Linked DNA regions of Homo sapiens: region 2 is linked to region 1. The links come from fine-mapping of genetic effects on gene expression. A gene starts in region 1. The other region holds a variant in brackets. All regions are shown on one strand. Distances are from middle to middle.

What was found. PIP is the estimated chance that this variant, and not a neighbour inherited with it, causes the effect.
Region 2: its variant is the best candidate, but not a certain one, in a credible set for the expression of ZNF155 in whole blood (INTERVAL, PIP 0.66).

What each region holds. Positions count from the first base shown.
Region 1 is chr19:43,981,809-43,986,203 of GRCh38, forward strand. It overlaps ZNF155 (zinc finger protein 155), which reads left to right and starts at 2,380. Exons shown (of 5, transcript NM_198089.3): 1 at 2,380-2,437. RefSeq lists a silencer at 2,077-2,276.
Region 2 is chr19:43,817,536-43,821,930 of GRCh38, forward strand. It overlaps a transcript of LYPD5 not described here. Among named protein-coding and RNA genes, the nearest start is that of ZNF283, 7.6 kb to the right of the region's middle. The variant A/G (reference allele first, on the strand shown) is at 1,916.

The DNA.
Region 1 (4,395 bases):
CTTCTCTGAGAATAATATGTGGTAGAGCATTGACTCATGGGAACATGTTGATGACTGACATACCCAATAATATAAAATCAAGAATGAGATTTCTTTGTAGATAAACTAGGAAAGTGAAAATCATAGAATAACAAATTAACCTAAATGTATTTCAAATCAATAACATAAACAGTCTAAAGGTGACAGCAAGAAGTAATTTAAGCAACTTATTAAACAGTACAGTGTTTGACTATATATCCTCAGTCTAAAGACAAAAAGAACTATAAAAAATGTTGAACTCTACTTTTGCATTGTTTTTTACAATGATATGAATTAGTAACTCTGACACTGCATGATGCGTATGCAATGGTCTTAATGTTTGTGGCCCACCAAAATCCATATATTGTAATTTTTACCCTCAATGTGATGGTAATAGGAGGTGGGGCCTTTGGAGGGTGATTAGGTCACGGGATGAATACCCTTATAAAAAATGCCAGAAGGAGCTTGTTTGTCACTTCAACCAAATGAAGACACAGCAATATGGTGCTAACTATGAACAAGAAAGTGGCCAACTACCTGACACAAAATCTGCCAGTGCTTTGATCTTGGATCCCAGTTTCCAGATCTGTGAAGAATAGATTTCTGTTGCTTAAAAGCCGGCCGGGCGTGGTCGCTCACGCCTGTAATCCCAGCACTTTGGGAGGCCGAGGTGGGCGGATCACAAGGTCAGATCGAGACCATCCTGGCTAACACGGTGAAACCTCTTCTCTACCAAAAATACAAAAAAATTAGCCGGGCATGGTGGCGAGCACCTGTAGTCCCAGCTACTCGGGAGGCTGAGACAGAAGAATGGCATGAACCTGGGAGGCAGAGCTTGCAGTGAGCCGAGATCGCGCCACTGCACTCTAGCCTGGGCGACAGAGCAAGACTCCGTCTCAAAAATAAAATAAAATAAAATAAAATAAAATAAAATAAAATAAAATAAAATAAAATAAAAGCCAGGCAGGCTATGATATTTTGTGACTAAAAAATATTGGTACTGAGAGGTGGGCTTGCTGCTGCAACAAATACCTAAAAATGTAGCAGTCTTTGGAACTATGTAATGGATAGAGTCTAGAAGAGTTTTTACATGTATGCTAGGAAAAGCCTACATTGCCATGAATGGACTGATAAGGACAATTCTGGTTAGCGCTCAGAAATAGAGAATAAGAACTGTAGAGAAAACATCAATCTTGTTAGAGCATACCTAGGTAGTCATGATCAGAATGTTGGTAGAAATATGGACAGTAAAGGCCATTCTGAAGACCTCAGTCAGAAATGTTGAACATGTTATTGGAAGAGAAGAGAGCTTCTTGTTATAAAGGGACAAAGAATTTGGCTGAATTATATTCAGGTGCTAGTGTTTTATGGAAGGTAGAATTTGTGAATGATATAATTGTTTATCTGAATTAATTTCTAATCAAAGTGTTGAAGTTGCTTGAATCATCTTGACTACCCGTAGTGAAAGGCACGAAGTGAGGAATGACTGAAATAATTATTAATTAAAAGGGAAACAGAACTAAAATTTTTAAAAGTTTACAGCCTATCTACTTTGGAAAAAAAAAAAAACAGGAAACCTGAAGAATACAAGGGTATGGTTAAGCAACTAACTAATTCATGAATTTAGTATGGATTGGCCATGTCAACTGAAGCCAGGACCTATTGTCCAAGACAATGGAAGAATGACCCCAAAGGCATTTCACAGATTATGGCAGCTTCTCCTCCCATCACAGGCCCAGAGTGCAAGGACCTGGGGGACAGAAAGGGCCTTTGATGCCAGATATACCCTAATATATTAGGCACAGTTTCCTGCCTACTACGATTGAGCGTGTCAATAAATTTTTATCTCTTGGGAGGGCAGAACAGAGCAAGGATACAGCTGTAACTGGTTTAGAAATAGCAGTCACTCAATTTTCAGAGAAGTGTTCCTCATACTGTGGTTGGCACAGTCACTTTATCTAAAGAAAACCATGAAAAGTATTCTTTTTTAGTTTAGAAAAATTGATATAGAACATGAGACTCCATTTTTTTAAAATAAAAATATAGGTTGATAGGCCAGAATTCACAGGTCCACCTGCCTGAGCCAAAATTCTCACGCCTCCACAGAGCAAATGGACTCCATTTCCCAAGATACCAGCGAAACGCCTGCGGGAGTCTAATTGCCCGGTCGATGCGCAGGAAATTTGGCTCCCGCAGGCGTTTCGCGAGTAGCTTGGGAGGCGTGGGAATTTTGGCCCAGGCAGGAGGACCTGTGAATTCTGGGAAGTGGAGTCCATTTGCTCTGTGGAGTCGTGGGAACTTTGGCTCAGGCAGGCGGATTCGGGGGATTCTGGGAAGTGTAGTCCAGACGCCTGTGGCATCATCGACACTTCCGGTCTCCGAGCAGGACACTGCTACTTAACAAGGTGGTTTGAGCCAAGTATGTGTCTTGCGGGTCTTTGCGAAAGTGAACCAGTTATTAGGGGCGCCTAACGACCTGGGGGGTCAACTAAGGGGGTAAGAAGCCCTGGAGAAGACCTGAGGTTTGGAGATGCGAGGGGTGGGAGGGAAGTTTCGTTGCCGTCGATGGAGCCTTCTGGCGTTGGGGGCTGTACTCAGGTCCACCGGAGGAGTCGTCGGGGGTTCGGGGGGGGCGGGGAAGAACTCTGTCTAGTCTTGTGTGCCTGTTTAGAGGGTTTTCCAGGTGTTTGACCTCGTTCAGTCCGCCTCCCTCCACTCTTAAGTGTGCGACCTCTTTCTCGCGATATAACGTGGGGTGTTACTTAATCTCCCTGTACCTCCCATTGCCGTTTTTTAAATGAGGATTTCAGGACCATCCTGATAGAATTGTTTTAGGAGTTGAAAGTTGTGGTATAAAACAAAGACTTAACAGCTCCTGTCACTTGGTGTCCTGTTAATTTCCCGCGAAGTGGTCAGGTGCCCGGGTGGGGTCAGAGCTCCAGCTGCTCCGGCCCTTCTCTTGGAGCCCGGCAGGGCTCTGGATGATCCCGGACGCCTCTGACCTCTTTTTAGGAAGGCGTGGGTTGCATCCACGTTTCACGAAGGGAGAGGAGCATTTAACTTGTATCCGGGACGGCGACGCAGAGTGTTTGACAGCTTTCTCCTTCCCCAGCCTGACTTTTCTAAAAGAGCTGCAGGGAGGGACTTGGCTACTGAGGACAAAGCTGTCTACACGAGTGGTCTTTGGCTTTTCTCTTTTTAAAAAAAAGTTATTTATTTTGTTAGTCTGTTTTTATTATTGTTATTATTTGAGAATGAGGTTTGCTCTGTCTCCCAGGCTGGAGTGCAGCAGTGGCGCGATCTTGGCTCACTGCAACCTCCGCCTCCTGGGTTCAAGCGATTCTCTGTCCTCAGCTCCGGAGTAGCTGGGATTACAGGCATGCGTCACCATGCCCGGCTAATTTTTGTATTTTTAGTAGAGACGGGGTTTCACCATGTTGGCCAGGCTGGTCTCGAACCTGTGGTCCTAAGTGATCCGCCTGCCTCGGCCTCCCAAAGTGCTGGAATTACAGGTGTGAGCCACCGCGCCGGGCCGGTTTTTTCTTTTACAGAGATGTTCACCTCAACCAAGAGTGTATAGGATGTGTCCTTGGGCATGGGTGTTGATAATAATTAAACCTTAATTGGTAACTTAATTCTAAGGGCTTTATGGAAATAAATACATTTACGCCACACCATGGCTCTGTGGAAAGGTATTGCTCTTTTTCTTTTTTTTTTTTTTTTTTTTTTCCTGAGACGGAGTCTCGCTCTGTCGCCCAGGCTAGAGTGCAGTGGCGCGATCTGGGCTCAGTGCAATAGGCCGCCTCCCAGGTTCAGGCGATTCTCCTGCTTCAGCCTCCTAAGTAGCTGGGATTACAGGTGCGCACCACCACGCCCAGCTAATTTTTGTATTTTTAGTAAAGATGGGGTTTCACCGTTTTGGTCAGGCTGGTCTGAAACTCCTGACCTCGTGATCCGACCGCCTTGGCCTCCGAAAATGCTGGGATTACAGGCGTGAGCCACCGCGCCCGGTCGCTCTTTTCCATTTTAAATATGGGAGTGAGACACCTGGTGCTTAGTTCCCAGTAGAATGAGGTACAGCTGGAGCTGGAACCTAGGCAGTTTGGGTCAGAGCCTGAGTTGATCATCCCTTGGATACATTTTCATTGAGGTAGAGGAACTAGCTGGAATCAGGTGGGGAAAGAGAGTTAGGACTTGATTGAAGGGACCTTGAGAGCAAGGCTCATAGACTTGGACTTCTGTAGGAGTCTTTTAAAAATTTGTCAACATCCTGTTTCACTTTTTATAAGGATTTTGTATTGTGGAACCATATCATTGTGGAGCATTTTAAAATTAGATTAATAGGAGGAGAAAACATGTTTTAAATTACCCATGAAT
Region 2 (4,395 bases), 160 kb before region 1:
CCACTAGCTTCAGTCATGCAGGTTTTTTGCAGGGGCCAAGTGAAATGAATGGAGGTATGATAGGGACAAATAATCCTGCATCCTCTAAATTTTGATGATGATGCAATCTCTGCAATTCCTCCCACAGCACAGTATTGAGTTTCAAGGGTTTCCACTTGGCTCTTTATACCATAAGGACTTTATTTATTTTTTTTTTTTTTGAGATGGAGTCTCACTCTGTCACCAGGCTGGAGTGCAGTGGCGCCATCTCAGCTCACTGCAATCTCTGCCTCCCAGGTTCAAGCTATTCCCCTGCCTCAGCCTCCCAAGTAGCTGGGATTACAGGTGTGCACCACCACACGCAAGTAATTTTTTTATTTTAGTAGAGATGAGGTTTCACCTTTTTGGCCAGGATGGTCTCTATTTCCTGACCACATGATCCACCCGCCTTGGCCTCCCAAAGTGCTGGGATTACAGGCATGAACTACTGCGCCCAGCCCATAAGTACTCTTAGTTCACAAGTTAGGAAGCCACTATAATGAGTTCTACCAGAAGATGAGCATATCTATCCCAAATATATGTTAAAGGATAGAGGAAAACAACCATAGGGTGAGTTCATGGACTTACTGAACTCACTGTGAGATCAGACTTGGGCCAAACATGGATAAGTAACAAGCTTGAAATCCTATCACAAGGATCTTGAGGGTCTCTCCTGGAAACACTCCTCTTAGCTTACATTGCCTACAGGGAGGACCCTGAGAAGAAGTTTCTGTGCTATTATTTTATCAGCCGGTACAGTTCCAGGGAAGCAGGAGAGAGGGAAAAGTATAGTGTGGTAGGGAAGGAGACAACACTTGTATGAAGGTCTTACTGAGCTGGCCACTGCTTGCTATCAAGTGTAATTGATTGTTTAATTTTGTGTTTTAAGACCACCTAGCTGAGGAGAAGAAGGGAGGTGAATTCATCCACTGGTTCATGAAATGTTTGTCCCAGAGACTATTAACTCCGCTGTACTTCCAGGTCGCGTGTGAATAGTTCAATGGGTTCTGTAACGTCTCATGCATCAGCATCAACAGGAAAGCCCTGGGGCTTGAGACAAGTAGTGCCCATTGCAGGCATGAGGTCAGGTTTCGTTGCTGCTTGTGCCCATGTAGAGTTGTTCTGAGTTCATGCAGGGATGTTGCTGCAGCAGTGAATCAAGAGAAACAAGTTTCCAGAGGCCCCAGGCACAGGTGAGGCTGAGAGGATCTGAAGTGACACATAAGATGTGTCTGAACTCTTTCTTAATTCAACTCTTGCATGCAATTATCTGAGCCTGGTGATGATTAGAGTTTAAATTCTAAACTACTGATGCTGTATCATTAATGACTAATTGTCTATTATTAAAAGTTTCTGTCTCTTCTTGTCAATTCTTTAAGTTATAGCTTTCTAGGAAATTGACCATTTCATCTGTTTTCAAATTTATTCTAATTCAAAAAATATTTTCTATTCTTGTGTAGTCTTTTTCTTTCTTAATATTATTTGTGCCTGTTCTCTTTTTTATTCATCTTTTGAAATAATCTATTTTTTAATTATCTCAGAAATGGATCACTTCAAATAAGCAGTTGTTGGCATTTAGCCTCTATTGCATCAGTGTTTTCTATTTCTTTAACTTGTGCTTATTGTTGACCTCAACCAACTTTCTTTGTATTTATTCTATTATTCTGTGTTCTAACTTCAAGTTGGACATAGCCTTCATTCTTTTCATTTTTCCCTTCTTCTTCTTCTTCTTTTTTTTTTTTTTTTTTTGAGATGGAGTTTGCTCTTGTTGCCCAGGTTGGAGCGTAGTGGCATGATCTCAGCTCACTGCAATCTCCACCCCCAGGGTTCAAGCGAGTCTCCTGCCTCAGCCTCCCGAGGGGTCTAGGAGATTAGTGATTATTAGTTCTAGCGGGTT[A/G]CAGTGACCGGTAGCACAGGAGGGATTGGCTTCCTTTTTCTGAAGGTGAACCGGGTCTTTTCTGTCCTTTTTCTAAGTAGCTTAAATAACACATGGTCAATAGGCACAATTTTCACAGGCCTCTAACTCATGACCCACTAATCCCCTAGACCCCCGTTGGAAAAAAGGAGAACGTGTAACCCTGGAGATCGATGGGTCAGGGCTAAACCCCCAAGTTGCCTTTTTAGTTTGAGGGGAGGTACACAGGCACTCTCCCAAACCAGTGTTTCAAACTTTTTATGATGAGCCGAATCTGCCAACACCAGAGCTTCCAAAAAGGACAAAAGAACTTGTTTCTCCAGCTAGCGGAAAGTGTAGCTCATTTCCTCAATGTTACTTTCTGTTATGTATGTGAGGGAACCACTATGGGAGACTGATGGCCTTGGGAAGCTAGAGAGTTGGTGCCCACTGATCCAGTTCCTGACCCAATTCCAGTTCAGAAGGCCCAAATTAGCAACTTCTGGGTCCTAAAAACTTCAATTATTGGACAATACTGTGTAGCTAGAGAAGGAAAAGACTTCACCATTCCTGTAGGAAAGCTCGATTGTCTAGGGCACACTCCAGCTGTCACTCTACACACAAACCCACACACTTGTGTCACAGTCACAGATTCATTCCAGTCCTGTCATACACCAAGCACTTTCTTCTTTTTGACACATACACACAGTCTGTCATACAAAGAGAAACACACCTGCTGTGTCATGAGCACACATGCAGTCACGAAGACATACCCTGGCCATTTCATGTGCACAGATGCACACACACCCCATTCCCTGTGTCACAAGACATCCCAGCCGTGGCACGTGCACTCTCATACAGACGCAACGTCACCATTCGCACGGTAGGGCACATCCTTGGCTCTATCACGCACATAATATTGCACACACCCCCTACACCATGTCTGTCACCACCACGGACGGTCCATCACACGCGGCCAGGGAGACGCCTGACCTCGTTTTGCCCCACCCCCTCCCTCAAGTCTTCATACCCAGCCACACTGTCGCCTTCTTCGGCTGCTCGCATTCGCCTCATTGCTTCTCCCACCCTTACCCGCACTGCCGACTGGGGCATGAGTCCGCAACGCCCTCTGCGCCTCGCCCTGCTTCGATGTCTCCTTCCGAAACTACACGCGGAACCCAAGAATCACTGGGATGCGCAAAGCGGATCAGGAGCGCACGCTCATTCGGCCCAGTGACCTGTGGGAATTGTAGTCCCGGGCCGGAAACGCAGGAGACGCCAGAAACCCAAGTTTGGGACGGCGCGTCCCAAGGGTTTCTGGAAGTTGTAACCTGTGCTCCGAGTGCGTAGGCGCAGGAACCCTTCGGGGGAATCCCTTTAGCAGGGAGCGTATATTGAAGAGTGCGTGCGGAGGTGAGAGCAATAAACTGATAACGGAAACAGATGGCATACTTCGTTTTCAGTTATCAAATTTCAAAAACTAAAAATGTAGATGGTACACAATATTGTTGAGAATGTGGGGAAATGAGAGCTTTCACACGTAGTGGGTGGAAATGACTACAGCTCTTTTACAGTTTTGTGTAGTAGCATTCACGAAGTGTGAAAGCAAACCCCTAAGCAACCAGCATTTTTACATACAAGAATCTAGCCTACAAAAATGCTGGCATGAAAGACAAAGATGTGGGTACAGTAATGCTTACCAAAGCCGTGTTTGTAATACTGAAGAATTCACATTGTAATACTGAAGAACCTCAATGTTCGTTTTTTGAGACACTGTTAGTCTGTGCTAGCCAATATGATAGCTATTTGTGGCTATTTAAAATTAAATCTATTAAAATTAAATAAAATTCGAAATTCAGTTTCTTACACTAGCCATGTTTCAAAGGCTCATTAGCCAAGACAGCTAGTGGCTACTGTATTGGACAAGAGGGATATAAACATTTCTAACATCACAGAAAGCTACATTGAACAGTGCTGGGTTAGGTAATAATTCAACGTTAAAAGGAATGAATTAAATCTATAACTGACATGAAATGAAGTAGAAGAATGTGTTGAAGTGGAAAGGGCAAATGGCAGAATTATATGGATAGCATGATCCCATTTCTGTATAAAATAGCTGTGTCTTTATACATACATTCAGTGTACAGAAAAATCTGGAAGAATACCTGAAAATATTAACTTTGGTCATTTCTGTAGATAGGGAATGAGTAGGGGGACACTTTCATTTCTGACATTATTTATCATCAGTTATTTGAATATTTAAAAACTGCAACAATTAACTGAATGTTGCTAAATCCAAATAAATATTTTTATTACTTATTTTGAAAGATTTTTGGCTGCCTTCTACTATCTCAGCGACGTACTCTTTCTTGAAATACTGAACTACTTTAGCTTAATAGACCTCCCTCATTTCTGTTTTATCTCCTCACTGAAAAGCATTAGAACATCTCTACAGCTATACCACTCTGAATGCTCCCGATCTG